Linked DNA regions of Homo sapiens. The protein of the gene in region 1 interacts with the protein of each later gene in a pairwise test. Each region holds a gene or a part of one and is shown on either strand. Other genes may lie near its edges.

Region 1 (7,715 bases):
TTGTCAGCCTCTTAGAGGCAGGAAATATTTGTATTTACTTCTGTGCCCCAGCCCCTGGCAGCATGCGTAGCACAGAAGCTGCGCTTGATGCATGTTCACTGAATGAATGGAGGAGCGGGTGAGGAAGTTCCTTGTGCTGGTGGTCCCTGGGGAAGCGGAGGCCGTTCAGGTAAGGAGCTACTAATTGACAGGACATGCAAGCTCATGAAGTTTTCCACACATTTACCTTTCCTCTCCTCCAGATTATGAACAGAGCCTTCTGCTTTGCTCATGGACACGAGTCTGTCTCCTCTGCTAGGCTCAACTTGGAGGAAACTTGCTTGAATGGCCCACTGACTGACCAAACAAATAATTGTGCATCAGAGCAGGCAGGGCAAGTTGGGATCTTGGCAGATGATACAATGCCTTCCCCAACTTGGTGGCTCTTTCTCCAGGGCAGCAGAAGAAGGCACCTTGATCCCTTTCCCATGAGAGGAGGGCAGCATTAGCAATTGGGACTGTGGCTTGAGGGAGTGAAAGATTTTGGCCCAAATACCCAGTCCACTACTTACTTGTGTGACCTTGGACAAGATATTAACCGTTTTGAGCCTCAATTTTCTTGACTGTTAAATGGGGACAATAATACTTAATTAACATGATTCATTGAGATAATATATTCAGAGTGTTTAGCATGGAGCCTGGCCCAGTAGATGTTGGCTATGATTATCTACTGTATTATTATCACCTTGGTCATCATTATTCTTGTTGTCATTATCACACCATTCCATTCTATCCAAGGACTAGGTCTCTCACCCCCAGCTTCTTTCCTGTGGTCTCCAATGACTATCCCATTTCTCCTGGGATGATGAAAACCCCCCTACCTTTAACCTCTCCACTCTGGGAACCACCTGCATCTGCTGAAGGATAAGAAGCTTCATGTGTATGTCCAAGTGGAGAGGCAGAGGGGGCCTCAGCCTCAGTGTTAGGAGTTAGAAATGAATCCCAGATCTGCCTCAGTTCAGTCGGTTGAATCATCATGCGACCCCAGGAAAGTCACTTTACCTTTCTGAGCATCCTGGGGCTGGACTGGCTTTTTCTGTAATTCATGGGTTATTAATAGATATTTAAAGATTCCATGGTCCAGTGCACTTGGGAAATACTGGTTAAAGAAAGTTAAATAATAACACTTGTAGCCAAAATTATAGTAACAAATACTATATAAAAATAACATTATATAATAATAATAATAATGCTGTTTGAGTGCTATTTGCCAGGTGTGATAAACCTTTTACAAGCACCATTACATTTATCACTTGAAGCAACCCTCTGAAATAGGTATCCTCCTCCTCCTCCTCATCATCATCATCTCTATTTTACAAATGAGGAAATGAGGTTTCCAGGGCTTCTGGTACTGTGCCTTGTGAAACTCCAAAAGAGAGTCAGAGAGAGCAGAGTTTCCGATCTTATTTGACAGGGATCTTTTTTCCTGCAGGGATCTCATAGTGCTGGGGTTCTGTAGAATCCAGTTGGGGAAGGCTGGGCAGGATCCTCCCTGGGATTCCTTTGAGCTCACCATTCCATACCCATCACTTCTGACCCTCTGTACCCCTCTTCTGCAGACCCCAGACCTGAGACTGGAGACATGAACATTGGATGGATGCTCCTCTGACCAGGTTCTGCCCTCCTGAAGCCAGAGGCTGATGGGAGCCTCCTGGTTGTGAGCACTGTTTCCTAAATGGGAGCAGCAGCTTGACCTCCAGTTCCATCTCTGGGTAGGGCAGCCTCTACAGACTGTTCTCCTGAGTCCTTGATGAATCAGAAAGTGCCAAAGGCCACATACCTCATGGCCAGGCACTGTTTCTGGCCAGAGAGAGGGAACAAGGTATTCTCCCTAGCCCAGCCAACAGTTCAGTCTGGGGTTGACTGCCCTTGGCACTGGCATGATAAGATTTTGAGGGAAGGCACCCAAAGGAGTTGTTTTGGGGGCCGAGACTTCCTTGGAAGGGAGAGCAGGGCCTCCGTTACTCTTGGCTGATGGTCAAGAAGCTGGAGGCCAGAATCTGATACTCCTAGCGGTGGACCTTTGGCAAATTACTGCCTCTCACCAAGCCTCTGTTTCCTTATCTGTAAAATGGAGATAAGAATACCTTTTCCACTGGGCTGCTGTGAGGATCCAGTGAGATCTGAAAAGGCTCTAAACTGTGCTACCCTGTAGTCAACTGTCCTTCTGTTTATGGTCTTAGAGTAGGGGGCTGGGACTCCAAGTGCCTCTGAAGGTTAGGGAGCTCAGAACACCTTAATCTTACGAATGGAACTGTTGATTCTATTCTTTGCCCTTTAATACAAAGTCCCTCCCCAGACCCCCCTATCAGGCCAGAAAAACAGAGCTGCCTATTGGGGCTTTGTGTGCATGGCAACTATCTGGCCAATCTCCCTTCCCGCTAACAAGGAGCAGGCCTCCTCATCAGTGCCTGATAAGGGAATGACTCAGAGCTGACCAGTCACAGGGTGCTGGCTTTTATGGCTGGTCTTGGACTCCCCTTTCTCCCTCTTGGGCTCTCCAAAGACCTTCAGTCTTTCTGCAACTGATTCACTAGTTAAACAGCCTCAGACTGGCCTTCCTGAGGGCTCAGAGCGGTTCCTGGTGGGTTAGGGGTGTGTATTTACGGGGTTTCCTGCCCCAGTTCAAGGATGAGTTGGCAGCTAACAGGTAGTTTGCTGGGAACTTAGGTTTCCGAGGCTGGAGACAAGTCTCCACCAGTCACAGGTGACCCAGGTGATAATACACAGAGAAGAGGGCTGAGCTGGGCCACCCCTCTTTTCATGAGGGAAAACTGAGACCCAGAGATGGGCAGGGACTGGCCTGTCTCCCTTAATACCTTCTCAGGAGGGCCTCTGTTCCAAGCCTGGGTGAATGCTTTGCCATAAGGACAAGAAGGAACCATGGGGACAGTTCTGGGGACGGGGGTCACTGGGGACAGGAACTGGGGTGAGGTTGTTGCAGCGCCCTGTAGTGCCTGGCAGGGGGCATGGCCCTCCAAAGAGATCCAAAACGGTGGGTGGAATTGTTGAACAGAGCAAGGGGTGGGGCTGTGTGGGGAGGAAGGCCCTGCCTCTATTGTCAAAACCTTTACCTTGTGCCGGGCACTTTGTGTCGCTCTGCCCAGCTCATTCAAGCACTCATCTTTATACAAGGATGAGGACATGCATTCAGCAGCCCTCTGACAAGGAGGGCAGGGATTCATCCTATGTTTGCCTTTCAGTGGCAGATGCTAAATGCCTCATGGGCAAGTTACTGGCCTCTCCCAGGCTCTGCTTCCTCATTTTGGAAATATTAAAGCAGCCCAATACTCCTGTGGTTGAATGAACGCATGCTTTGGGGGATGGAAGGGAGGGGATCATCCTGGTGGCCAGGGACGAGTGGGCTTTGAGGGTTCCAGAGTGAGGATCAGGCTGGAGCTTAGTGTTGGAAAGGTGTCAGCTGCCAGAACCGCTCCCTGCAGCTGTTCTCAGGAGACTGTTGTCACCTGGGGCACTGAATGGCGACAGCAGGGTGAGGCAGCTTTGTCTTGAGAGGGCTGGGTTCGTGCAGCTCAAAATGCCCGGATGTGCCCTGATCCGGAACTGGTGCCTTTGTCAGAGGGGACAAAAGGGGAGTTGGGCATGGGTGTTCCCAAGAAGCTGGTTCTGAGAGGCTGTAATCTCCAGTGGAGGGCAGGAATCTGTGAATGCACTTTGTGGGGGGCGGGCTGGTTAGGATCGCAAGCAAGGGGCTCTTAACAGGGAGCACTCTGAATGGTTAATCACTGGGGCTGGGCGCAGGGGCTCACGCCTGTAATCCCAGCACTTTGGGCGGCCCAGGCGGGTGGATCACTTGAGGTCAGGAGTTTGAGACCAGCCTGGTCAACATGGTGAAACCCTGTCTCTACTAAAAATACAAAAATTAGCTGGGCGTGGTGGCGCGTGCCTGTAATCCCAGCTACTCCGGAGGCTGAGGCAGGAGAATCGCTTGAACCCGGGAGATGGAGGCTGCAGTGGGCCGAGATCACACCACTGCACTCCAGTCTGGGCGACAGAGACTCGTCTCCAAAAAAACAAAAACAAAATCACTGGGTCAGGGGTGTGTAGGAATATGACCCCAGAGGGACTGTAATTCCCAGTGGTGTCAAACTCTGGGTGATCTTAAAGGGTGAGGCTCAGAATGTGGCTTCCAGGGACAGGGGTGTCCAGGTATGTCCCTGACGGGGGAAAGGCCAGAACAGGGTCTGCAGAGAGAGAGTGGGGGAGTGCGGGTCGGAGCTTCTGCGCGGACCGGGGCGGGGCACCTCTGGAGGGCAGGGGCCTCTGGTCTCTGGGAGGGGAGGGAATTGACCAATGGGGAGAGAGCCCATATTTGCTCTCAGGAGCCTGCAAATTCCTCAGGGCTCAGATATCCGCCCCTGACACCATTCCTCCCTTCCCCCCTCCACCGGCCGCGGGCATAAAAGGCGCCAGGTGAGGGCCTCGCCGCTCCTCCCGCGAATCGCAGCTTCTGAGACCAGGGTTGCTCCGTCCGTGCTCCGCCTCGCCATGACTTCCTACAGCTATCGCCAGTCGTCGGCCACGTCGTCCTTCGGAGGCCTGGGCGGCGGCTCCGTGCGTTTTGGGCCGGGGGTCGCCTTTCGCGCGCCCAGCATTCACGGGGGCTCCGGCGGCCGCGGCGTATCCGTGTCCTCCGCCCGCTTTGTGTCCTCGTCCTCCTCGGGGGCCTACGGCGGCGGCTACGGCGGCGTCCTGACCGCGTCCGACGGGCTGCTGGCGGGCAACGAGAAGCTAACCATGCAGAACCTCAACGACCGCCTGGCCTCCTACCTGGACAAGGTGCGCGCCCTGGAGGCGGCCAACGGCGAGCTAGAGGTGAAGATCCGCGACTGGTACCAGAAGCAGGGGCCTGGGCCCTCCCGCGACTACAGCCACTACTACACGACCATCCAGGACCTGCGGGACAAGGTGGGCGGAGGCCCGGCCGCGGGAAGTGCAGTGCACCTGCCGCGGAAACCCAGCCCCGCGGGCCGGGCGAGGTTCCAGGCGGGGCGGCGGGCAGGAGCCCGTTAGGACGTGGGAAGGTCCACAGGTGGGGCCGAGTAAAGGGGGACAGGAGACGTGCGGGGCAGGACCTCGGGGCTGGATGCAGAGGCCGGGGTGGTGGAAAGGGGAGGAGAACTGGGCAGGGCAGATAAGTGGGTGGGGCCTCTGGAGGTGGCGGGGGCAAGGTTGGAGCCCCGGGACGAAGAAGGGACGCGGGTCAGCGAGGCCTGAAGAGTGGGAGGAGATGGGACCCGGCTGTAGAGTGCCCAGAGGTCTAGGCCAGGGGCCGCGCTGCCGCAGGAAGATGCGAGAGTTTGGCTTTGGTGATCTGGTCCACCCGGGGCCAGTCTTGCCCCCTCTGCCACCGCAGCGTAGGGCCTCCTGCATTCCGTTTCTCTGGCCGGAAGGGTCTAGTGTTCATCCCTCTCAGGCTTTGGCCTCCTCCCACTCTCCCGCCCTGGGGCCCATTCGTTTAGGAAGAATGGGAGAGCCGGTCGTGGCCCCTGGGCGGGGTAAAGGAGGGAGGCTTGGTAAACCTCTGCTGGGGAGGACCCAGTACAGTGGCAGCTCCTTGTCGGGGAAAGAACGGATCTGCGTCACACGCTCTTACAGGGGAACCCTAAGGGGCCTGAGGGGTAGGGCTTGGTCTCCACCCAGAGGGAAGGAGAAATTTTTCGAGTCGTAAAGAAATGTATCAGAAGCCATGGAACATTTACAGCCGCACACGCTGGGTCTCCCAACAAACAGATCCCCAAAATATTTTCCAGTGCTGTACTCGTGGCATAGACCCAGACCCACAGACCAGGAGGAAGCGCTAGAGATGTCAACAGCCAACAAAAACAGTGCTTTACACACTTGTAAAATTGTGACCTACAGGGGCTGGGCACTGTGGCTCACGCCTGTAACCCCAGCACTTTGGGTGGCCAAGGTGGGAGGATTGCTTGAGCCCCAGGAGTTCGAGATCAGCCTGGCAAACATGGTAAAATCCTGTCTCTACTAAAAATACAAAAATTAGCTGGGCGTGGTGGTGCATGCCTGTAATCCCAGCTACCTGGGAGGCTGAGGCAGGAGAATTGCTGGAACCCAAGAGGCGGAGGCTGCAGTGAGCCGAGATTGCGCCATTGCACTTCAGTCTCGGCCACAGAGCGAGAGTCCGTCTCAAAAAAAAAAAAAAAAAAAAAAAAAAAGGAATTAGCTTGGCATGGTGGCGTGTGCCTTGCAGCGAGCTGTACGTGATCAGTGCCACTGCACTCCAGCCTGGGGCAACACAGCGAGACCCTGTATCAAAAAAAAAAAAAAATTGCGACAATAAGTACATTTTACTACGCACCCTTACGCATTCTTTTTCTCACCTCTGTGTGTGTGTGTGCGTGCACATGCACACACACAAATGGGTGACACAATTCTCACCATACTAAGAGAAATCCCCTCTGATATTTTGTAGCCTATTCTGTTGCATTAAAAAACTACACAATCGGCCGGGCGCGGTGGCTCATGCCTGTAATCCCAGCACTTTGGGAGGCGGAGGCGGGCGGATCACGAGGTCAGGAGATCCAGACCATCCTGGCTAACACGGTGAAACCCCGTCTCTACTAAAAATACAAAAAAAAATTAGCTGGGCGTGGTGGAGGGCGCCTGTAGTCCCAGCTACTCAGGAGGCTGAGGCAGGAGAATGGCGTGAACCCGGGAGGCGGGGCTTGCAGTGAGCCGAGATCGCGACGCTGCACTCCAGCCTGGGTGACAGAGCGAGACTCTGTCTCAAAAAAACCCCAAAAAACAAAACCAAAAAACCCCCCCAAAACACAAAACTATACAATCACCACCTGGTGCCTTGACTAATGAGTGATGACCTGCTCTTTGAAAAACAGAACACAATTACCTTATTCAATGATAAGCTGGCTGTTGTGAATGCGCCTCTTAGGTCAGTAAGACCTCAGGTTGGGGTGAACTTGGATGAGGCATCATCCTAAACTTTAGTTTCCACCTCTGTAAGATAGGAGTACCCACTGACCTAGCAGTGAGGTTCCAGAAGCTATAAAAGATGAGATTCAAAGTGCCTGGCACATAATTGATACTCAACAAATGGGATTCTCTTCCCTGGGGGCAAAATATGCTTCGCATAGTGGGGGGGGCAGGTATAGACAAAATCTACCCCCCATCTGGTTTATAGACCCCCTTCAGGCCATTTAGAGTTTCATTGCACACAGGTCTCAGAGATTTCCTCCCCAGGCTTGCCTTCCTGCCCTCCCCCACCCAAGTCCCCCTGGCTCCAGTTTTCTTCCTGCCCCAGCTTCTGGGCATGGACTGTTTGCAAGGCCTCCCAGAGAGCGGGCCAATGGGCGGCAGATGCTGGCTAGGGCTTTGGTCTCTAGGGTGCCGGGGTATATTCATTTGCTCCCCTCTCTCTTCTGGGAAGAAAGTGAGTGGGCAGTGCCTGTGTGTTGAACTGGTACCAACCTCTGCCTCTGCCTTCCAGATTCTTGGTGCCACCATTGAGAACTCCAGGATTGTCCTGCAGATCGACAATGCCCGTCTGGCTGCAGATGACTTCCGAACCAAGTGAGTGTCTCTGTCCTGGGGGCTGCAGAAGCCAGGACTGGGGTAGGGGTTGGGGGGTTTAGAATCTGCCCTCACCTAGCCTAGATGGCCTGAAGCTAACCCCCCTATGG
Region 2 (7,302 bases), 1.7 Mb from region 1:
CAAAAATTAAAAGGACATTTTTTATAGGGTGGGCTCTTCCTATCTGACTGTGTTGTTCTCCATGGGTGCAAGGATGGTGAGGAGATGATCATCTCCACTGAGGCAGACGGAGAGCAATTAGTGCCTTAATGGTCGTGTAATTAGCCCTAGAGGTCTCTGCTGTTGTAACCCTTCAGAACAAGAATGACAGATTGAAACCTTCCTACTTAACTCTTTCTAGTTTCCACACTGGGCTCTGAGGAATGCACTTCCTAGACAAGGAATGCTCATTTCTCTCACTTACCAGAATGTGTCCTAAGATGCCCCGTGAGCGCATCTCTTCTTTGGCATGCATAGTTGCAGAGGTGACACTTAAAAGGTTTTTCCCCTGTGTGCAGTTTAATGTGGCGGAGGAGGTTACCTTTCTGAGTAAAAGATGCCCCACACTGATTACACTGGAATGGGCGTTCACCTTTAAAAAGGACAAAAAAGGAGATTTCTGGTCACAGGCAAGTGGAGAAACATATGCACAGATTAGATGCCTAGGGGAAAAGCTCATCTTTTAGACAATTACTGTTCACATTGGGATCAGTTGGGAGCTGCATTTCAAGGCAAGCCTAAGACTTACTTATGAAATCTCCTCTGTAGAAGAGAAAAAGCACCCACTAGCAAGGCTATTTTAGGTATCATATTGAATCAGAGCAAAGAAACAAGAGCAGCTCTAGAAGTGCTTTCTAGATCTAAGTTTTTATATTACTATATTACTTGGTACTCCCTTTTTTTTTTTTTTTTTTTTTTAGACAGGGTCTTCTTGCTCTGTTGCTCAGGCTGGAGTGCAATGGTCCCATCATGGCTCACTGAAACCTTGACCTCCTGGGTTCAAGTGAGCCTGTCACCTCAGCCTTCAGAATAGCTGGGACTACCAGTGTTTGCCATTATGCCTGGCTAATTTTTTAGTATTCCTTTTGAATATAATCTCCTTTGAAAAAAGAGCCAGAAACTAAAGTCCTTACAAGGTGTTGAGGGCTAGAAATTCTCCTTTTTAAAGTCTTCATATGAGATATGGGATGGAATCGACTGGCTCAAGTGCGATGGTTGTGTTTGTATGCATTTCTATAGACTACCTGTTTATTGTCTGAAGATACATTATTTTAAGCTGGAAATAAAAACTATGTCCTTTCATTTACCAAATTTGAACCCAATACAATAAGAAGATCTGCTCTTATTAAAAATGTTATGCAAAAATATACAAAAGATGGCTAAGAAGCAAATCACACAATTCAACTCCTACTTAGAAACTGAAGAAAAAGTATTTGGCTGACCTAGAACACTGTGCTCTCTACAGTCTTTTTTTATTCATAGCATTTGCAATATGTTTGCCAAATGCATGGTGAGGCAGGAATAAAAAGCACTGAGTGAACAGCAATGCAGAGAGAGAGATACATCAGCATTATAGCAAAAATCAATGAAAGTAACCAAAAGTTCCAAATTCCACCACTTCATTTCTCACGTGGCTGCATTAGGAGAGTTTTCAGAAGAATGAAAAAAGCAGACTATTTACCAGTATGGCTTCGCTTATGAACCATTAAGACATTGAAGCTGATGCAGGATAATCCACACACATCGCAGTTCATCTTTCCACTGGTTGGCCTGCTACTATCGAATGAGACAACATGTCTCTCCAACTTAATGTTTTCATATTCATTATATTCTCTTGAATAGCTGTAAGGGATTTCAGGCTCTTCTGCATTTCCCATGGGTTCTGACTTTAAAACATTCTCATCTCTTTCACTGTATTCATCTTTCACTTTCATTGAATCATCTGCAGGGAAGAAAATGCAAGAAATGAACAACGACTATACTTGAAGCTATCAAAGCAGCTCAAACAGCAGAGACCCACAACTGACAATTAAATACCAATCGAAGCTAACAAAACACTGTACATCTACAAAACAAGAAAGCACCATTAGCGTGACCGCACGTTATTTAAATTCAGAACCACAGTCAGAGGAAAACACACATACTTACACACATAAAAATAGACGATAGTGTTTTAGGCTATCCAGAAAATTACAGATAATAGATTTTAGCTAAGTTTGCTCAAAGTGGCCATGAAACAAACATTGAGCAACTCTTCTCCAGTACTAGGGGAGAGGAAGGGTTCTCAGATCTAGTACTGTTTTTGGTGGCTGCAGTTAAAAAGGCAAGGTGATGTACTCTTAGGTTTCAAGGAGAAAATATTGTTTGAATCCTTCAGATGCATCCAGTGTAAGCCATTAAGATTAAGAGTTGACTAGTTAACATAGTTTTTCTAATTTTAAGCCATGCATTGCCTCTTCCCCTTCCACGTATATGAATTGCTAAAACACATCTTATCTCTGTCTCTCTTGGAGCTGATAAAGGCACAACATTGACTGTAGAGGAAGTTGTCAGTACTAATGAAAAAGTGTTGAGAAAGACAAAAGGAAAAGTAATTCTTTCATATAACCTAAGGAGTCACTTTCATCGACACAGGTAAGTGGGGCTCAATCTAAATAAGGGGAAGGACCATTAGGTCCCAAGTTAGGGAGAACTAAACTCAAGGACTCAAGGATTGTGTAATAGGACTGGATAGGAGAGGAGGGACTGGCTCAAGTGAGTTGGCTGACCAAGTACTATCTTAAGAACTGCAATGTAAATGAATGAAATTTAAAAGAAGAGCTGTAATACTCTTCATGAAGAGCATAAGAACATATGAAGAACGTGGGAAAAATATGAAGAACATAAGAAACAAAGAAGGCAAATTTATGTACTTGCACTGACACTAGTAAAACCTAAAAATTTGCCTGATGTAAGAATAATAAACATTTGTAAGGGATTTTGCATATATAAAATATGCTATATAAATGCTTACTTTTTCAACCATTGGTCCTTAGAAATCAAAAGTTGTACCTCCCCATGAGGAATCACAAATCAATGGAGTGTAGGGCTGGAAGGGAATTTAAAGGTCATCTAATCCAACCCTCTTGTTTCTCAGATGAGGAAATCTGGGAGCAGAGATGTTTTTGGTCATTTGTCGAAGGTTACACATCCAGTTACTGGCAGAGGTGTGATTAGAATGCAAAACTTAAGCTTGAACTATCAATTACTTGGATTTGACCTCATGCACTAGACATATAAGGCCTAAGTGGGTTCTTACCAACTGTATTACACACCCTCCCATCAATGGTGTAAATGTTAAAACCCAAAACAGTCTGAAAAAAGATATTTTAAAAAACTACATCCCTTCCAAAAAACATCAGTAAGTGTTGCTCCTCTTGCTGCATAGGAGGAAGTACAACTGCAGCTGTGCCTGGCTTGCTACCTTCAACCCAAGTTTCAATTTTCACTTCTATCAAGGTTACCTTTCATCTATATTAACTGTGTTTGCTTAATAGAGCAAGACAGGGCCTAACCACCATCAGAGGAGCCAGGGCTGCCACACAGTTCCACTGCTTCCTACCACAGTTCATGGTTCACAACTTTTCACTCTTTGACTAGCAAAGATGTAGGGCTGTAGGATAAGTCCAACATGTTTCAAATTTGCCCACCCTATGGATCTGGATTATATAAGAAATGATATCTGTTTCCTACTTGGAAAGAGGTTTACTTCTTTCTCTGGATAGGTCTTCCCTGCTTTCAAGTGGAATTTGTTTGCTTAAGTGTTTATTTTTTATTTTTTTAAGAGAAGGATGCACCTGAGGCTTGTACTTGCCTCCCTTCCTCCATCACTCCAGCTGTGGGTAATATCCCACCAAAGCTTGAGTGCTCTTCAGTTTGCATGTAGGCGTTTAAAAGAACCTCAACGGAAAATTTCAGCTACTTAAAACCAAAAACAGCAGATAGAAAAGGCCAGCAGAAAAGGATCCTTTCCATTTTGGTTAGAAAATGTGAACATGACCAGACTCAGGCCACTCCATGGTCACTGAACTTTAAAATGTAGTAAGATCAATGTGTTGAGTCTTTCTGAAAACAGAGGACATAAGAGAGCTGCTCCTTTCCCTCAGGATTTTGGCTTTAGTTGGCCTGACCTGGAATTCAATACGACACCATCCTGGCTCAAGAGCAGATCTTAGCTTTAGTCCTTTAGGAGTCAGCTATAGAGCAAGGAAGACAGTATTTGAGACCCAGGGACATAAGGACACAGGGACAGGGCATTAGAGAAGTCCTTTGGGCTTACATAGTTGCTGGTTTGCCTTTGGAGTCTTACCAGTTTTAGATGAATGACCTGGATGACCTCTCTGCATGGTTACTGGGGATTAGCAACTTATTTTTATTTTATTCTATTTTATTTTTTGAGACATAGTCTTGCTCTGTTGCCCAGCCTGGAGTGTAGTGGCACGATCAGCTCACTGCCACCTCTGCTTCCCAGGTTCAAGTGATTCTCCTGCCTCAGCCTCCCGAGTAGCTGGGATTACAGGCATGCACCACAATGCCTGGCTGATTTTTGTGTTTTTAGTAAAGACGGGGTTTCGCCATGTTGGCCAGGCTGGTCTCGAACTCCTGACCTCAAGTGATCCACCCTCCTTGGCCTCCCAAAGTGCTGGGATTACAGGCCTGAGCCACCGTGTCCAACCAGATTCTAATTTATTCTAATATTCAACTCTGTTACCTTCTCAAGGTAAGCCATAATAAATTGCTGGCTGGGCATAGTGGCTCATGCCTGTAATCTCAGCACTTTGGGAGGCCAAGGCAGGTGGATCACTTGAGGTCAGGAGTTTGAGACCAGCCTGGTCAACATAGCAAAACCCCGTCTCCACTAAAAATATAGAAAATTAGCTGGGCATGGTGGCTCCCAGCTACTGGGGAGGCTGAGGCAGGATAATCGCTTCAACCTGGGAGGTGGAGGTTGCAGTGACCCGAGATCGTACCACTGCACTCCAGCCTGGGCGACAGAGCGAGACGCCATCTCAAAAAAGATAAAATAAAATAAAATAAATTAGAATTTAAGGTATGAATGAGATTCCTGAGAGATATTAGGCTTAGTACTCAGCCTCCAAACACAGTCCACCAAAACCAGGAAAGGCATTAGCCTGCTCTAATGAAGAGATTCATCCCATTCCCTGGAAGACTTATTGAAGCAGAGAAAAGGGGTGTTCTACTTAGAAAAATTCTATTAGAAAATACTAATGAACATGTCTAAAATCAAACTTGTCATCTTTGAACCCAAACTTGCTTCTAATTTATGACTTATTTATGTTGACAAATGGCATCACCCTTCTTCCAGTCTCCAAGCCATCAAACTGTGGAACCTTTTCTCTTTCAATTTCTACATCAAGTCAGTCTCCAAGATCTATCAACTCTATGTCTTCAGGCTCTCTAGGTGCCAACTCCTCTTTTCCTTTCCTTTTGCAATTTGGTTTCACCTTTCATCACATCATACCTAAATTCATCCTCTCTCAACATTCCTTTCTTTTTTTTTTTTTTTTGAGTCAGAGTCTCACTCTGTTGCCCAGGCTGGAGAGCAGTGGTGTGATCTCGGCTCACTGCAACCTCTGCCTCCCTGGTTCAAGCGATTCTCCTGCCTCAGCCTCCTGAGTAGCTGGGATTACAGGTGCCCACCACCACACCTGGCTATTTTTTTAATTTTTTTTTTTTAGTAGAGACGGGGTTTCACCATCTTGGCCAGGCTGGTCTTGAACTCCTGACCTCGTGATCCACCCACCTCGGCCTCCCAAACTGCTGGGATTACAGGAGTGAGCCACTGCGCTCGGCCTCAACATTCCTTTCTAGACAGATTTAAGACACAGGTGGTCCAGGAGCGGTGGCTCACACCTGTAATTCCAGCACTTTGGGAGGCCGAGGCGGGTGGATCATGAGGTCAGGAGATCGAGACCATCCTGACTAACATGGTGAAACCCCATCTCTACTAAAAATACAAAAAAATTAGCCAGGCGTGGTGGTGTGCGCCTATAGTCCCAGCTACTCAAGAGGCTGAGGCAGGAGAATCGCTTGAACCTGGGAAGTGGAGGTTGCAGTGAGCTGAGATCCCACCACTGCACTCCAGCTTGGGTGACAAAGTGAGACTCCGTCTCAAGAAAAAAAAAAAAAGACATAGGTAAGCTATGCTTACTGCCTCTACAGCCTCAAAAAGGACTCAGAATTCTCTGTAATATGGCTTCCGCCTCCACAATTCACTTAATCTGCTCCCTTGAATATCACCAACCATAATCTCCTGATTCCTAGATTCAGAGCCTTTTTGTATGCCACTCTCTCCAACTTCTTTGTAATCCTCAACACTACTGACCACTCACCATTCCTTGTTCTTCTGCACTCCTATGTCTTTTCTTTCTTTCTTTTTTTTTTTTTTTGAGACAGAGTCTCACTCTGTTGCCCAGGCTAGAGTACAGTGGTGCGATCTCGGCTCACTGCAACCTCTGCTTCCCAGGTCCAAGCGATTCTCCTGCCTCAGCCTCCCGAGTAGCTGGGACTATAGGCACGTGCCACCACACCTGGCTAATTTCTGTATTTTTAGTAGAGACAGGGTTTTACCATGTTGGCCAGGCTGGTCTCGAACTCCTGACTTCAGGTGATCCACCTGTCTTGGCCTCCCAAAGTGTTGGGATTACAGGCATGAGCCACCGTGCCCGGCCCCTGCACTCCTATTTCTTCAATGAAAATGTACCTTCTTTCCTTGCCTTTCTGATTGCTTCCTTCTTGCCCCTTTTCTTCCCTCTGCATCCTAAATACTGTCCTTAACCTTCTTTTTTCTTCCCTCTACACCCCTCTTGTATGGCAATTTCATTCATTCTTAAGGCTTCGACTAACATCTTATATGATTAATTTCCATATATATAACTCCAGGTGTAACCTCTCTCCCTTTCTTTAGTCCTCTATTTCTGAAGGCTTCCTAGGTATCTTCCCAGTTACTCAGGCTAGAATCCTTAGAGTCATCTTTCCTTTCTCCTGATTGGGCCCCACATTCAATCATTCAGTGGTTCTATCTGTGTATCCAATCTCTAATCTGTTTCTCCACTCCTGTATTTTGCATGCCCATTACCTAATTCTCAGACCCTATGACTTTCCCACGATCTACTTATTGCTGTAGCCCCCGCACTGTTCTCTTTGGCTCCCTTCTTTCTCCTTTCCAGCCCGTCTTGTTTGTTGCTACAAGATTGCTCTTCCTAAATTCTACCTCTGGTCATGTCATAGCCCTGTCAAAATTCTTCAATATTTTCCACTGCCAACAAAATAAAGTCCAAACTCAGAAACAAATAATTTAAAAGGCCTTTCGGGATCTGGCCCCAACCTATCTTTGGCATATTAATTTTGACTAGTTAGATCTTTAACTAAAGAGCTTCTAAG
Region 3 (7,980 bases), on another chromosome or scaffold:
GCCTGGAAAAGGGAATCGTAACTGAGCTCCAGACATCTCAGAATACTGCAGGAGTGCAACTGCGAATTTTTAGGGGCCCTTCAGCATCCTGTACCCACTCTGTATCTCACCTCCATGCCCTGGGGAAATGGGCACGGCTGCCCTGGGTCCGAGGGTGGGTAGAAGTCAGGAGGCAGGAAATTTTCGGCAGCAGAAGCAGGGCAAGAGTAGGGGCTGTCAGTGTAGGCAGCATGCGTGTTGGGGTCCCAGTCTGGAAAGCCCAGGCTGCTAGGTCCAGAACCCACAGTCTCCGAGTGTGCTGGGAAGGGAGGGTGGCCTGCGTGTAAGAGGAGGGGCAGGGGCAGGTCTGGTTACCAGAGTTGGGGACGTCACATCCAGGGCTAGAGGGCCTGGCGTCTCCCAAGGTACTGAGAGTTAGTACTTCTGGGACACCAAGCTCCCGGGACCTGGATTCCTGGGACACTGAGGAATTGAGGGCCTGGACTCCTGGGGCACTAAAAAGGCTGAGCCTGGGCCCTGGGGCTCCGTAGGACTATGTGCATAGACTACTGGACTCAAGAGAACCTAGGAAATCAGACTGCTACTGAGTTCCAGCAAGAATGAGGGCCTACCAGCCTAGGCAACATAGCCAGACCCCGTTTCTACAAAAATTTAAAAAATTAGCCAAGCAAGGTGGCATCGCCTGTGGTCCCAGCTACTTGGGAGGCTGAGGCGGGAGGATCACTTGAGCCCAGAAGGTTGAGGCTGCAGTGAGCCAGATAGCGCCACTGCACTCCAGTGCCAGGGCAACAGAGTGAGATCCTGTCTCAGAAAAAAAAAAAAAAGGGAAGAATGAGGGCCTGACTCCCAGGTGTCCCAAAGTTCTGAGAGCTGCGATGTCTGAGTCCCTTAGGGAAGGGGGATGGGGAGGCCGGGAGCTGAGAGAACTTACCAGTCACAGCCTCATTCACAGATGGGGTCAGGGGCTGCTCTGGGGGAGGGAGAAATTGTCCCTGTAGAGACAAAAGCAAAAAGGAACCCAGGTGACTTTATCTGGCAGATTCCTCCGGGTCTGTCTCGGATCTATAAGACATTTCGGTCAGGACCACCCCTCTCATCAGCCCCGAGGGCCCGGCAAGCCGCTGAGTCCCTACGGGACAGCACGGGGCCTCCGGAGAGCTGTGGCTCCCTGGCCTCACCTGCACCCCGCCAGCGTCGGGCTGCTGCTGCTGGCGGCGCCTCTGCTCTTCCAGAAGCTTCTTCACGGTTTGCGTTGGGCAGTGGCTGCGCTCACCCCTGCTCACTGTGCGGGAGAGGAGAGGGGGAAGTCATCAAGGGTCCTTAAGTCACCTAAATGCCGCGGGGGTGGCGCGCGGGGAGTGGGTTTGGGCACCCTCCTCGCCCTCCCGCGCGGAAAAACTGGCACATAGATGCCGCCTGACTCCTCCAAAGCCATTAGAAGATTTGGGGTGGGGCATCCGCCTCCGCCGTTTCCTTCCTTTTGCTCCGCACTTTCCCTCTGACCCAACTTTCCACCACCGTCGCGGAAAGTGAGGAAGGGGGAGGAGGGCACCCCTCTGCAGCAACCACCCCACTTCCGTAAAAAAATTCCACCCCCAGATATCCAAGTTTTGAAGTCAGCGGGTTGGTGGGGGGCCGGCGCCAGGCGTCACTCCCTAGACTCACATCCAGGTTCCCAACATTTTTTTCCCTAGAACCTGACCCGGAAATCAGGAGTCCCCAGCGCCCCTCCTCGAGAAGTCAAAGGCCTCACCCCGGGCCGGGAGCGGTGGCTCACGCCTGTAATCCCAACACTTTGAGAGGCCAAGGGGGGCGGATCACCTGAGGTCAGGTGGCCAACATGGTGAAACCCCGTCTCTACTAAAAATATAAAAATTAGCCGGGCGTGGTGGCAGGCGGCTGTATATCCCAGGTGAGGCAGGGGAAACACTTGAACCCGGGAGGCGGAGGTTGAGGTTGCAGTAAGCGGAGATCGCGCTACTGCACTCCAGCCTGGGCGACAGAGAGAGACTCCATTAAAAAAAAAAAAAAAAAAAAAAAAAGGCCCATCCATACAGTCTCTTTTTCAGGCCCCAGGAATCTGGACCCTCAGTTCCTTCCTCTCTAGGACCTGGGAGCCCCAGTTCCCAAACTCCTTCCCACGACTCAGAAAGACAGAACCCTCACCCTTCCGAGCCTGGGTTCCGGCGGAGGAAGGGTTAAGTGGGGATTGCGCGGGGCGGGGGCGGGAGGAGGTGGCTCGGAAACAGCCCCGACGCGGCGCGCTGACGCCACGGCGCTCACGCAAGGGAATCTTCCATCCTCCCCTTCCCCCCAAGTCCTGTGCCCCAGGTGTCCTGCTCCGAGGCGGGGCGCGCGGCCGATCGTGGCGCTCGTGGAATCCCCGCGCAAGGGGAATTCCTGCTCAGCCCCGCACGGGTGGCCATCCGGAAATCCCAGGGCGGGGCAGAGGCAGGGTCACCGCCAGCGTAGACCCTGAGGCCAGGCTCCGGACCCTTCCCCACCGAGACCCACGCCGATTTTAAGCAACCACGCCCCCCCCCCCCCCCCCCGCACTCAGCCTAGTCCCTGCTTCTAGGGGTAGGAGTCTCGGTTGCCAGCAACCCCTAGCACCTCCAAGGACCCAGAGATCCAGCCTCCCAAGCCTCCCAGCCCTTGCACCCTCGGGGCCCTGCGATCCTGGATCCCCAGGCCCCTGCACCCCCAGGACCCAGAAGTCTGGGATCCCAGCCGCCCCTCTGTCACGATCCACGATCCCCTCCTCCTCCAAACACCTAGGGCCCTCACTCTCGGGATAAAGGACTGACGCTTCAGCTCCGTCCCTCAGGGCCTCGGGAGTCTTTCGATCCTCAGTCCCTCACTCTCTTAGGGGGCCGAACGCGTCCTGCCCGCGCCCATTACCTCGGGGATTCCGTGGCGTGGATTGCGGGCCCCCAGGGCCGCGGCCTCGGCGCTGCGCCAGCCTCGCTGTTTCCCCCGCGGAGCCGCCGCCGGGTCCCCGATCTTGGGTCCGGTACCCGCGAGTTTTTAAACTAGGGGTTATGGCACCGCCCAGTCCTGGGCAGGGCCCGCCCACAGGCCTGGGAGTCCCCGGGTCGCGCTCCGGCGAACGCAGTCCCTGAATGGGCGCGGCGGACTTGGGAGGCGGACTACTCAGTCCCCCCGGGAAGGAGGGAGCTGGGGTCCAGATCTTTGCTCTGAAGGAGCCTAGGGCACCGGGCTCCAAGAGGAGGGAGAAACCGGGGGGCCTGGATTTCTTTTCTTTTCTTTTTCTTTTTTTTCTTTTCTTTTTTTTTTTTTTTTTTTTTTGTTGTTGTTTTTGAGAAGGAGTCTCTGTCGCCCAGGCTGGAGTGCAATGGTGCGATCTCTGCAAACTCCGCCTCCTGAATTAAAGCGATTCTCCTGCCTCAGCCTCCCGAGTAGCTGACACTACAGGTGCTGGACACCATGCCTGGCTAATTTTTGTATTTTTAGGAGAGATGGGGTTTCACCGTGTTGGCCAGGCTGGTCTCGAACTCCTGGCCTCAGGTGACCCGCCTGCCTTGGCCTCCCAAAGTGCTGGGATTACAGGCTTGAGCCATGGTGCCTGGCTGGGGCCTGGATTTCTGGGTCTGTGTCTAAGGGGGTGCTGGAGGCTTTGTCTCCTGGGTCCTGCCCATGGGGGTAGGGGTAGGAGTGGGGATGGAGATGGGGTGGGGGCAGGGAGAATATTACTGGGTCCAGAGGGAGGCAGGACTGGGGGTCTAGACTCCCAGAGGAAGGGTCTGTGGGTAAGGGTATAGGGTGTGGCTCAATTTCTCCCTCTCCCCTACATCACCCTTTTTAGAGGTCTGGTTTCATTTACTCATTCATCATTTAAAATAATTTATTGCAGCAGAGGAGGCATTTTGCTGTGTATTGTGAACTAAGCAGGCAGGAATTCCCAGCCCTGGAGCTGGCATTCCAGTGGGAGGCCACTCTCAGTTTCACTTGGTGACCTTTCACAGCACTGACCATGTTGGCCCTATTTCTCCCCTGCTTGCTTGCTTTTCTATTTTATTTTATTATTACATTTTTATTGTTAGAGAGAGGGTCTCATTCTGTCGCCCAGGCTGGAGTGCAGTGGCAAAGTGGTGAGATCTCGGCTCACTGCAACCTCCACTTGCCTCAGTCTCCCAAGTAGCTGGGATTACAGGAGCCTGACACCATGCCCGGGTAATTTTTGTATTTTTGTAGAGACGGGGTTTCACCATATTGGCTTGAACTCCTGATCTCAGGTGATCCCCCCACCTTGGCCTCCCAAAGTGCTGGGATTACAGGCATGAGCCACTGCGGTGGCCTCTCCCCTGCTTTCAAGATGCCATGCTCTCAGGGGTCCCCTCCCTCTTTCTCCATTTCCCTGGCAAAGTTCCTCCTCTTCCCCCATTCAGTGTGTGTTGTGATAGGGGCAGAATCCTGTCTGCACTCACTTCCTTGGTGATCTCACCCAGTCTTGTGGCTTTAAGTACCATCCATAAGCCATCAACCCCCAAATTTACATCTCCAGACCAGCCTTATCCCCTGAACTCCTAAATGCAGTGAGGTTATTCAGCATCTCCACAGGGAGATTGTCAGGCATTTCCAACCCTGTATGCCCAAACCTCGTCACTTTCCCCGCAAACCCACTTCCCTACCTTTCATCTCTGCCAGCAGACACTCCCATCTTCTCAGCGTTTCATGCCAGAAGGCTTGGCTGTCTAGGATCCCTCTCAAACACACCCACATTCATTTAATCAGCAAATTTTCTTGGCCCTACCTCCAAAATATTTCCAGATCTCCCTAGCCTGCACACCCTTGCCACCTGTCATTCCCACTTGGACCAGGCCAGCAGCCTCCCTGGTCTCTCTGACCCTCCCCCTGAGTTCGTTCACCAAAGGCAGTAACGGAGACACCCCCTCAACACACACAGGAAGCAGATGGCCTTGACACCAGCAGGGTGACATCCGCTATTGCTACTTCTCTGCTCCCCCACAGTTCCTCTGGACTTCTCTGGACCACAGTCCTCTGCCAGACCCCTGCCAGACCCCAGTCCACCATGATCCATCTGGGTCACATCCTCTTCCTGCTTTTGCTCCCAGGTGAAGCCAGTGGTTACAGGGGATGGTAGGCAGAGCGTTTGTGAGATGGGTGCTTGGGTGACGTCTGCAGGGACGGGTGATGAAAGTGGGGTTCTTCTCCCTGCACCCCTTCCCTTCTGGGAGATCCATTCTGCTTCAGGGCCTGGGTCCTTGGGGGCGGAAGGGGGTGAGACAGGGAGTTCTGGAGGGGCTGCCTGTTAGCGTCCCCTTCTCATGGCTGGGTCTCTGCTGCCACTTCCAATTTCTTGTCACTCTCCATGTCTCTGGGAGTCCCCTTCCCATGTGGTCCTGTTCCATCTCTCCAGCCTGGAGATTACTTCTCAGGACACTACCTTTCCTTCTCTACACCCTATTTTTTGGTTTGTTTATTTTGAGATGGGGTCTTGCTCTGTTGTCCAGGCTGGAGTGCAGTGGCACAATCACGGCTCACGGCAGCCTTGACTTCCTGGGCTCAGGTGATCCTCCCAGCTCAGCCTCCCGAGTAACTGGGATTACAGGTGTGAACCAACACTTCCAGCTAATTTTTGTATTTCTTGTAGAGACGAGGTCTCACTATGTTGCCCAGGCTGGTCTCGAACTCCTGGGCTCAAGCGATCTTCCTGCCTCGGCCTCCCAAAGTGCTGGGATGACAGGCGTGAGCCACGGTGCCAGGCTGAGCATTCTGTTTTGTGGACCTTCTCTCCACCCTCATCCACCTTCTTTCTCTTTCCACAGTGGCTGCAGCTCAGACGACTCCAGGAGAGAGATCATCACTCCCTGCCTTTTACCCTGGCACTTCAGGTATCACTTCCACCCCAGAAGCTTGGCCAGAGGCTCCCAGAACACCCCAGTGGTTCTCCAGGTCACCATCCCACCTCCCGTCCCCAAATCAGAGGATCCGTGTCCTTCTCCGAGTCCCAGAATCAGCGACCCCCAGCCTGTGTTCAGGAGCACCCCGTGTGCCCGCCGCACAGCCCCGAGGGTCCTGGGACACCCCAGCCTCTCTGCATCTGTCTCCCGTTTCATTCCCCAAGCGCAACTCCAAGGAACCTGGGACCCGCCCCCTCGCAGGGGACTTCCTCTCTGCCTGTGGCCAAAGCACAGCCCCAGGACGCAGAGCTTGAGTTGTCTCCCTGTTCCGGCCCCCACTCTCCAGGCTCTTGTTCCGGATGTGGGTCCCTCTCTCTGCCGCTCCTGGCAGGCCTCGTGGCTGCTGATGCGGTGGCATCGCTGCTCATCGTGGGGGCGGTGTTCCTGTGCGCACGCCCACGCCGCAGCCCCGCCCAAGGTGAGGGCGGAGATGGGCGGGGCCTGGAAGGTGTATAGTGTCCCTAGGGAGGGGGTCCCAGGGAGGGGGCCCTTGGGGAAGCCCTGGAGGAGGTGCTGGGGAAACCCTGGGGGAGGTGCCTGGGGGAACCCCTGAGGAAACCCCTGAAGCAGGGGGTCCCCAGGGAAGTGGAGATATGGGTGGTCAAGCTTCATGCTTTCTCTCCCCTATCCCCAGAAGATGGCAAAGTCTACATCAACATGCCAGGCAGGGGCTGACCCTCCTGCAGCTTGGACCTTTGACTTCTGACCCTCTCATCCTGGATGGTGTGTGGTGGCACAGGAACCCCCGCCCCAACTTTTGGATTGTAATAAAACAATTGAAACACCTGTAGTCGTATTCTTTCTCAAAGAACCCCAGAGTTCCCAAAGCCTCCCTCCCATGAACTGTTTCTGGATCCAAGGCCCCCTCAGAACCCCCACATGTCCCCATCCCATCAGCCCAAGGATCTGGCATAATGTTTTTGTGCTTCATGTTTATTTTAGGAGAGTATTGGGGAGCGGTCTGGTCTCTCAGGGATGGCACTCTGTGGGTCTGTATCGCGGTAGGAGTTGGAATGAGGTGCAGGGTGGGCTTCAGGAATGGCTGGATCCAGGTATCATGTTGCTGACTGTCATGATTCGGGCTCATTTGTAATACGGCCTCTGTGTGTTGAGGTCGCTGTAGACATCCGACCTCTGACCCTGGAGCTCCTAAAGGAATGGGGGCCATCAGTGGAAGGGACCCACCAAATAAAATCCAGCCTTCTCCCAGTGGCCTGCAAGGCCCCTGGCAGCTTCTTCAGCCTTATAGCCATGAAAGAGATCCGGATTTTATTCAAGTACATTCAATGTTCCCCCTTCTCCTCTGCCTCATCAGTGTGCCCCAGCCTCAGGGTCCCTGCGTGTGCTGTTTCCTCTGCCTAAAACTCTGTTCCCCTAGATCCCCTCTCCCTTCAAGTCTCAGCTCACGTCACCTCCTCAGAGAGGCATTTCTCAATTTCCCCTCTGTAGTTTCTTCCCCCCACACTCCAGCCACTGTAAAAAAAAAAAAAAAAGCCTGTTTATTTCCTTTACTGTGCCTCCCAAAATTATTTTATTTGTTCATTTGCTTTAAGTTTGTCTTAACTAGGATATAAACTCTGTCACTGTGTCCCCAGCATTTAGCACTTATAGGTGCTAGACACATCCACAGAGGGAATAAATACATCCGGGTAATGCTTTGCCCTAAAATTTCACTGCCACCAGTAACTGGAAGGGCCCCTCGGTCTTCTGGATATCACAGAGCCAAACCTGAGATTCTTAGACTTCACAAAGAAACTTTATCCACAAGTGAGGTGAATAGGCAAAGCTGGTTGCAGACAATATATCAGACTTCACACAGCAGTGTTCACACTTGGGGTAGGGGGAGGATCTATGTGGCCCCCAGGGGCAGGCCTCAGACAGAAACCCTAAAATCATATATGATGACTAGTCTGGGCGTGCATTCTTCAGGGGAGAGGTCTTAGAGAATCTCATGACCCCCTAAAGGGTTAAAAAGGAACATTGACAGAGAGGGGGATAGATGACTAGATTCTCTTGTATACTCTATAGTTTTTAA
Region 4 (7,302 bases), on another chromosome or scaffold:
CATCAGATTGGAGTCATGAGCTTTTGGTGTAAATAGCCAACTCTAAACTTGCTCTAAGTCAAGTAGGCTGGAAGCACCCCAAGATGACCCTCCCTGTAGCCTTGAATGGTACCCTTTCCCCATCAGCTGCCACATGTCCTCCTCTCTACTCTCGTCTTCATCACAAAGAATCTGACAAGCTCATTCCTAATAGGGCAACAAAGACTTAAAGAGTGAGATTTGCCTTTTCCCTAAAGTACGTCAACACAGGAGAAAAGTGCAAGCCGTTACAACAGAAATGTAATGGTGAAATTTTAGGTATCAACCAAAAAGTTGAGGCTTTTCTTTTGTGTAAGAAATTTCCAGCTACTAATCAAATGACTATATATAAGTAGCAAACTATCCCCACTATTATTAATAAATTACATATTTTTCTTTATCCTATACAATTTCATAAATGTACTCACATTTTATAATAACTATAATTTGAATAGTCATAGTATATTCATGTCTCCAAAGTGCTGGGTCATGAGTTAGATGAGTTAGGCAGATCATGGGTTCCAAGTCTACCTCCCTGGGTTTACACCTGCACCATTGAGGCAAGTTGCTTAAATGTGTTTGTGCCTCATTCTCTTCATCTGTACAATTGGAGAAAATATTCCCCACCTCATGAGGGGTATTGTAATGATGAAATAAGATCGTATACACAGGCATTTAGAACCTTGCTGGACACTTGGTTTATGTTCAATAAATGTTAGCTATTAGTAAGATTTATTTCTAAATAATAAACATTTGCAGCTGGCAAATTATAGATTTTTGGCAGGTCTTCATATTTTAATTTGCCATGGCTTATAAAGAATATTTGGCATAAAGGGAAGTTCTTATAAGATTGAGATTCGTGATTTGCTCAGCATTTTCAAAAAGTGTGTGATGAGGTTGACTACACAGCAGTGAATTTTATTTATTTATTTATTTATTTATTTATTTTCAGACAGAGTCTCACTCTGTCACCCAGGCTGGAGTGCAGTGGCACGATCTCAGCTCACTGCAACTTCTGCCTCCCGGGTTCAAGCAATTCTCTGCCTCAGCCTCCCAAAGATTTATTTCTTACATAAATGCATGTTTTTAAATTTTGATTTCCAGATGGAAGCTATCCCCAAAGATGATTCTACATTATCTGAGAGAAGGCGAGAGCTTCACAAGGAAGTTGAAGTAGCTAAGAGGAATTTGGCCCAACAGGTTAATATCAATGCTCATTTAAGCTTCTATCTAAGAAGCGTTCATACAAAGTTGTGCTTTTAACTGTGCTCCACAAAACCTTATCAATAAGAGAGTCATCAAAGAGAGTATGATCCTGCTTCATGTGGGCATATTTCTTCATCTCAAAGTCCACTCCAATCCTACACTAAATTTGAGAAAAAAGAATATGTTTGAACCGCAAAAAGTATTCAAAGGAATGAGATTTTTAAATTATGGGCTGTTGATTACATTAAAAGTAAACCACAGATGTTTTATTTCACCAATGTCTAATTTCAAATTTTCGTTTGTTTTTATGTGTCTTCTTTTTCTTAGTCACTTGAAAATACAGTCTAAATACAAAGAGGTTCTATCATGTTAACCCATCGATTTTCACATTATTTTACAAAATGAAAACAATGAAGCTAAAACACCATTACTTTATTTTTAATTTTTATTTTTTTTATAGAGAGGGATCTTGCTATGTTGCTCAGGCTGGTCTTGAACTGCTGGCCTCAAGTCATCATCCTGCCTCAGCCTCCCAAAGGCTTGAATTACAGGCGTGAGCCACCACACCTGGCCTGTTTAAAAAAATACATTTTGTATAGGAAGTAAAAAGGTAGTCTAAGATACTAGCTTTACTGTATTACTTCAAACAAATAACTTATAATATTATCTGTGTTTTTTTTCAAAAGAAAATTATATCAGAAATGGAGTCTAAGTTAGTAGAACAACAACTTGCAGAAGAAAACAAGCTTTTAAAGGAGCAAGAAAACATGAAAGAGCTAGTAGTCAACCTTCTCCGCATGACTCAAATCAAAATTGATGAAAAGGAACAAAAGTCCAAGGATTTCCTGAAAGCTCAGGTAACTGCATTTTTTTAACCATTCATTGATAACTACAAGAGTTCAGGGTAGCCTCATTATAATGCCACGTGCATTAGGACATGGATGAAGCTAGAAACCATCATTGTCAGCAAACTATCGCAAGGACAAAAAACCAAACATTGCATGTTCTCACTCATAGATGGGAATTGAACAATGAGAACACTTGGACACAGGAAGGGGAACATCACACACCGGGGCCTGTTGTGGGGTGAGGGGAGCGGGGAGGGATAGCATTAGGAGATATACCTAATGTAAATGATGAGTTAATGGGTGCAGCACACCAACATGGCACATGTATACATACGTAACTAACTTGCACATTGTGCACATGTATCCTAGAACTTAAAGTATAATAAAAATATATAAATATTAAAAAAAGAACTGGAAGGAAACTCAAAAAAAAAAAGAAAAGCTATACAATTGACCCTTGAACAACATGGATTTGAACTGCATGGGTCCATTTATACACAGATTTTTTTCAACCAAATGCAGATCAAAAGTAGAGTACTCACAGAATACAAAACCTGCAAATATGGAAGGCCCACTTTTCTTACAGGTGAGTTCCACAGGGCCAACTTTGGGACTGCTTGAATATGCTTGGATTTTTGTATTCTCAAAGGGTCCTGGAACCAGTTCCCTATGTATACCAAGGAACCACTATAACTGTGCCTCTCCTTCAAGTACCAGTGACTATAAATCTTCCCTAAATGAGATTCAATCATGCACTGAAAGATAGTCCCAAGATTCAATTAACAGTAATCAACAATTTAGATGGGAAAGGAGATCATTGATAATGATCGGAGGATTTGAACAGATGGCAATTTCAGTAAGAATAAAGTGGGTGCCTCCAGTGGACAGGGCTGGCAGCTGCATAGGCTGCAGATATCATTTAGTTTTCACTCCCATCTCAGACTCCACTGTGATTTGTCCAGGAACAACTCAAGAGTGGTAGCATTAGGTAACTGTCCCTCCCAACTTCATCAAGACAGCATCATTTAATCGAATGCCAGATACCCTTAGTTGCTTCATCACACCATGATTTTCCTGGGCCTCCTACAAAGTGCCAGTGCAACATTCCCCCCTAAAATCAACAATAAAACAAATGGTAAGGCAGCACTCCTGTCATGCAAGCTAAAATTCTACCATTAGAATTGTTTATTCCATATAAGGATTATGTCCAGATCATGCCCAGAAGCTCCCTGTTAAAAATAAACAGGATATTACATATTACTAAAATAGAAGAATTTATCAGGCCAGGCATGGTGACTCATGCCTGTAATCTCAGCACTTTGGGAGGCTGAGGCGGGTGGATAACTTGAGGTCAGGAGTTTGAGACCAGCCTGACCAACATGGTGAAACCCCATCTCTACTGAAATACAAAAATTAGCCAGGCATGGTGGCAGGTGCCTGTAATCCCAGCTACTTGGGAGACTGAGGCAGGAGAATCGTTTGAACCTAGGAGGTGGAGGTTGTAGTGAGCCAAAATCGCACCACTGCATTCCAGCCTGGGTGACAGAGCGAGACTTCCTCTCAAAAATAAAAAAAAAAAAGAATTTATCTCATGACCCAGATGTGGTCTGTTTGGTCTGTTTCTAAGCACATCCCTTGTTCTCAGTCTAAGTAAGGATTTACATAGAATGGTATTTCTTCTCATTCTGCAGAAAGAGCTCACTCACGCCAAAGCATTAGTGAGCAATGAGGTATGAAGTAGATTTTTGCAAAAAAGAGAAGATCTACATTGCACAACCCACTGCAGGCACTTCACATCCCCCTTTCACTGTTTATTTTTCTACTTTAATATTTAAGAAACTAAAAGAAGTTCAGGATGGCTGGCACATGGGAAGATGGGGAGAAAGGATGTCAAATAGTGAGACCAGAGAGCGGGACAAGTCAGATGATGAAAGTCACTTAATCCATGTTAAACAATTTAGACTCCATAATGAAGGCTGCAGCAAGAGTGAAGTTCATGGAGTAGTTGGGTTTCACTAGGTAAAGAAGTGGTCAGGGAGGACTGGATGAAAGAAAGGCAGCTTCAAAGCACAGGGTGGCTAAGCGGGTAAGATGCAGGAGCAGGACAAGGAGAGGAGAGAGGAGAGATGTGGGAAGATCATCTTGGGCCAGGAGCGGTCTCTCACGCCTGTAATCCCAACACGTTGGGAGGCCAAGGCGGGTGGATCACCTGAGGTCAGGAGTTCAAGACCAGCCTGCCCAACATGGTGAAAGCCCATCTCTACTAAAAGTACAAAAAATTAGCCTGGCGTGGTGGTGGGCACCTGTAATCCCGGCTACTCAGGAGGCAGAGGCATGAGAATCGCTTGAACCCAGGAGGCGGAGGTTGCAGTGAGCTGAGATTGCGCCACTGCACTCCAGCCTGGGTGACAGAGCGAGACTCTGTCTCAAAAACGAAAAATAAAGAATAAGAAGGAAGGAAGGGAGGGAGGGAAGGAAGGAAAAGAAGGAAGAAGAAAGCCATCTTCACCAAGTCAGGGTCTGGGACAACTTGGTGTTGGCTGGGAAGATCCCACTCAAGTGAGTCTTTCCTAGTTAGAAACTTCCTCCCTTTTCTCTTTAGAAATTACAGAAACACCAGAGGTATACTTATTTGTTATAAGAAACACTGATCCGTTTTATGAATTAGATAATTTTCAATTAATTTCAAAAACTGATATACATGTATATCTATGTGTGACTAATCTATGTAAAGCAAACCTCATTATTAAATGAGCTAATTTGTATTAAACCAAAATAGACAATTCTTCTTGAGATACAGAAATTGATAAAGGACAAATGTTTATCCCTTGAGTATTTTTAGCATTAGGAATTAGTGTGTTAAACATTACCTGTACTTAGCTGCAGTTTCCATAAGAAGGCAATCTTTTATGTTCACATTGCATCCACATCCCTAAAGACAAAGGTGAAGAAAAAAAAACAATGTCACTATCACCCCTAAGACAGAATAGATGACACTACATTTTCCCATCTGTTTTATTATTCATGTGTACAGTTACTTAAATATTCGTTTCTTCCTGACCCCTATTCTCATGGAGAACAGCATTAGAAAAATGCTACACATCAATCTTGGCTCTATGGCTAGTTTCTTTCAAATCACTCATACCAAAAGGGCTTTGCTCTCAGTCCTTGAGAGAAGGCTGACAAACTCTTTCCTCTGGTTTACTACCAGCAAATCCTTCATTTTTGAATATGTTTCTTATCCCAGATGCAAGAACCAGTATCTTTTGATTTGAAGAACATAACTAGTGTATTTAGCACTTGATATATTTTTTAGAACTCTAGAAATATAACTGCTTTCTTTTAAAATATTTATGTGTAACACCTCCTTACAGCTGATCTCAATATGATGCCTTATTATGTAGGAAAACACCCCACATACAAAAGAATGGAAAGCACTTTAAAATCATTGCTTCAGTCTCTGACAAAACACCACAGAGGGTTCAGTTTATAACACTCACCAAAACTTACTAGGAATCCTCTTCTCTCATCTATTTTCCATAAACTACACTCACCCAGTCCAGCTGTGTGGTTCAAAATCACTCTTCCTCTCTCTCAAAAGTTGTCCAAACTTTTCCTCAAACCCAAGCCATGCAGGCTCTTTGCGTTTTCTCTTCTCTCGTTTGTTCTCTTCTTTAGGTAACAGTTAACAGTTTGTCTTAGCCAATGTGAATCAGTTCAGCTAGCCAGGGAATTTTCAGATCTCTTTTACCCTTCACCCTGATCTGTACAACCCAGCAAGCCAAGAAATAATTTTTTTTTTTTTTTTTTTTTTTTTGGAGAGACAGGATCTTACTTTGTCGCCCAGGCTGGAGCGGAGTGATGCAATCATGGCTCACTGCAGCCTCGAATTCTTGGGCTCGAGCGATCCTCCCACCTCAGCCTCCTGAGTAGCTGGGACTACAGGTGCACACCACCATACCCAGATAATTTTTTTATTTTTGTAGAGATGAGGTCTCACTATGTTGCCTAGGCTGGAGAATTGTCTTTAATGGAAGGGAATGATGTGGGATAAATCTGGGAGTGTTCATATGTTGTTATTTATTTCACATTTTTTTGTACATTTCAGCAAAAATACACCAACATTGTTAAAGAAATGAAAGCAAAGGATCTTGAAATCAGGATACACAAGAAGAAAAAATGTGAAATTTATCGGAGGTAAAGTAATTATGTGGTGTTTTATCTACGTAGGTGAGGGGAAAAAAACCTGATGTTCATTTCATAAGTTTCAGTAAACACTTTGTATTTTTACAGACTGAGAGAGTTTGCTAAACTGTATGACACCATTCGAAATGAAAGAAACAAATTTGTTAACTTACTCCACAAAGCTCATCAGAAAGTAAATGAAATAAAAGAAAGGCATAAAATGTCATTAAATGAACTTGAAATTCTGAGAAATAGTGCCGTTAGTCAAGAAAGGTAAGTGTTATAATAACTATTGGCCTTTCAAAGGCTTGTTTTCTGATTCATTTGAACTCTAAAAATCCTGGGGATAAGAAGATAGGAAAGAGGCAGAGGCTGCAATGAGCCAAGATGGTGCCACTGCCCTCCAGCCTGGGTGACAGAATGAGACCCTGTCTCAAAAAAATAATAAAAATAAAAAATAAAAAGAATAGTATTTTAGAAAGCCAGAATTAGAAATCCAGAAAAAGCCCTTGTTCAAACATCTTGTTTTATAGATGATAATCTACCATGCTTCTACTCTTTGGGAGTCATTTTTTTAATGAATGAAAAACCATAACATATAACTATGCTTACTATGATGATTTTCACCTGCCCAATTAGAAAGAAAAGCACAAATCTAATAATTGGGATTGGGAAGTTAGAAAACAATCAAATCGTTTGTTAACCAACATCCCCTGATTGTAGATGTAAAGCATCTCATGTGTTGTGGGAGGCAATACGTTATAGCAGATTGGTGAAAGAGGTGGTGTCCAGACTCAAATACCACCCCTCCCACTTATTACCTCTGTAACCTTGGACAAGCTGCTTTGTCTCTCTGAGCTCACTTTCCTTATCCATACCATATTTCATGCGACATTTTACTGTGAAATGAGCTAATTCATATAAAAACACTCAGAAAAGCGTCTGGCAAATGGTTGTTTTCTTCATTTATTATTTACCATGTGCCAAGATCTTCTGGACTCTTTCACCTATGTTAGTAAACAGTACACGATCAGGGTATAATCTA

Evidence for each region.
Region 2: the proteins of KRT19 (region 1) and IKZF3 interact in binary tests that used the Homo sapiens proteins (3 or more experiments, as listed by UniProt).
Region 3: the proteins of KRT19 (region 1) and NFKBID interact in binary tests that used the Homo sapiens proteins (3 or more experiments, as listed by UniProt).
Region 4: the proteins of KRT19 (region 1) and CCDC146 interact in binary tests that used the Homo sapiens proteins (3 or more experiments, as listed by UniProt).

What each region holds. Positions count from the first base shown.
Region 1 is NC_000017.11:41,525,081-41,532,795, reverse strand, and holds the start of KRT19 (keratin, type I cytoskeletal 19), read left to right. Parts: upstream 1-4,487; 5' UTR 4,488-4,548; coding exon 4,549-4,968; intron 4,969-7,522; coding exon 7,523-7,605; intron 7,606-7,715. UniProt on the Homo sapiens protein: Involved in the organization of myofibers. Together with KRT8, helps to link the contractile apparatus to dystrophin at the costameres of striated muscle.
Region 2 is NC_000017.11:39,791,133-39,798,434, forward strand, and holds part of IKZF3 (zinc finger protein Aiolos), read right to left. Parts: intron 1,802-7,302; coding exon 1,541-1,801; intron 452-1,540; coding exon 284-451; intron 1-283. UniProt on the Homo sapiens protein: Transcription factor that plays an important role in the regulation of lymphocyte differentiation. Plays an essential role in regulation of B-cell differentiation, proliferation and maturation to an effector state.
Region 3 is NC_000019.10:35,897,541-35,905,520, forward strand, and holds the start of NFKBID (NF-kappa-B inhibitor delta), read right to left. Parts: upstream 3,001-7,980; 5' UTR 2,963-3,000; coding exon 2,902-2,962; intron 2,204-2,901; exon of another isoform or gene 2,167-2,203; intron 1,283-2,166; coding exon 1,179-1,282; intron 993-1,178; coding exon 932-992; intron 317-931; coding exon 111-316; intron 1-110. Other genes in the region: HCST (hematopoietic cell signal transducer), read left to right, coding at 5,054-5,096, 5,811-5,876, 6,110-6,363, 6,580-6,651; TYROBP (TYRO protein tyrosine kinase-binding protein isoform 1 precursor), read right to left, coding at 7,029-7,094. UniProt on the Homo sapiens protein: Regulates the expression of IL-2, IL-6, and other cytokines through regulation on NF-kappa-B activity. Functions in the regulation of inflammatory responses.
Region 4 is NC_000007.14:77,272,572-77,279,873, forward strand, and holds part of CCDC146 (coiled-coil domain-containing protein 146), read left to right. Parts: intron 1-1,122; coding exon 1,123-1,218; intron 1,219-1,651; exon of another isoform or gene 1,652-1,796; intron 1,797-1,910; coding exon 1,911-2,081; intron 2,082-4,942; exon of another isoform or gene 4,943-5,004; intron 5,005-5,572; exon of another isoform or gene 5,573-5,781; intron 5,782-6,180; coding exon 6,181-6,269; intron 6,270-6,365; coding exon 6,366-6,530; intron 6,531-7,302. UniProt on the Homo sapiens protein: Essential for sperm flagellum biogenesis and male fertility.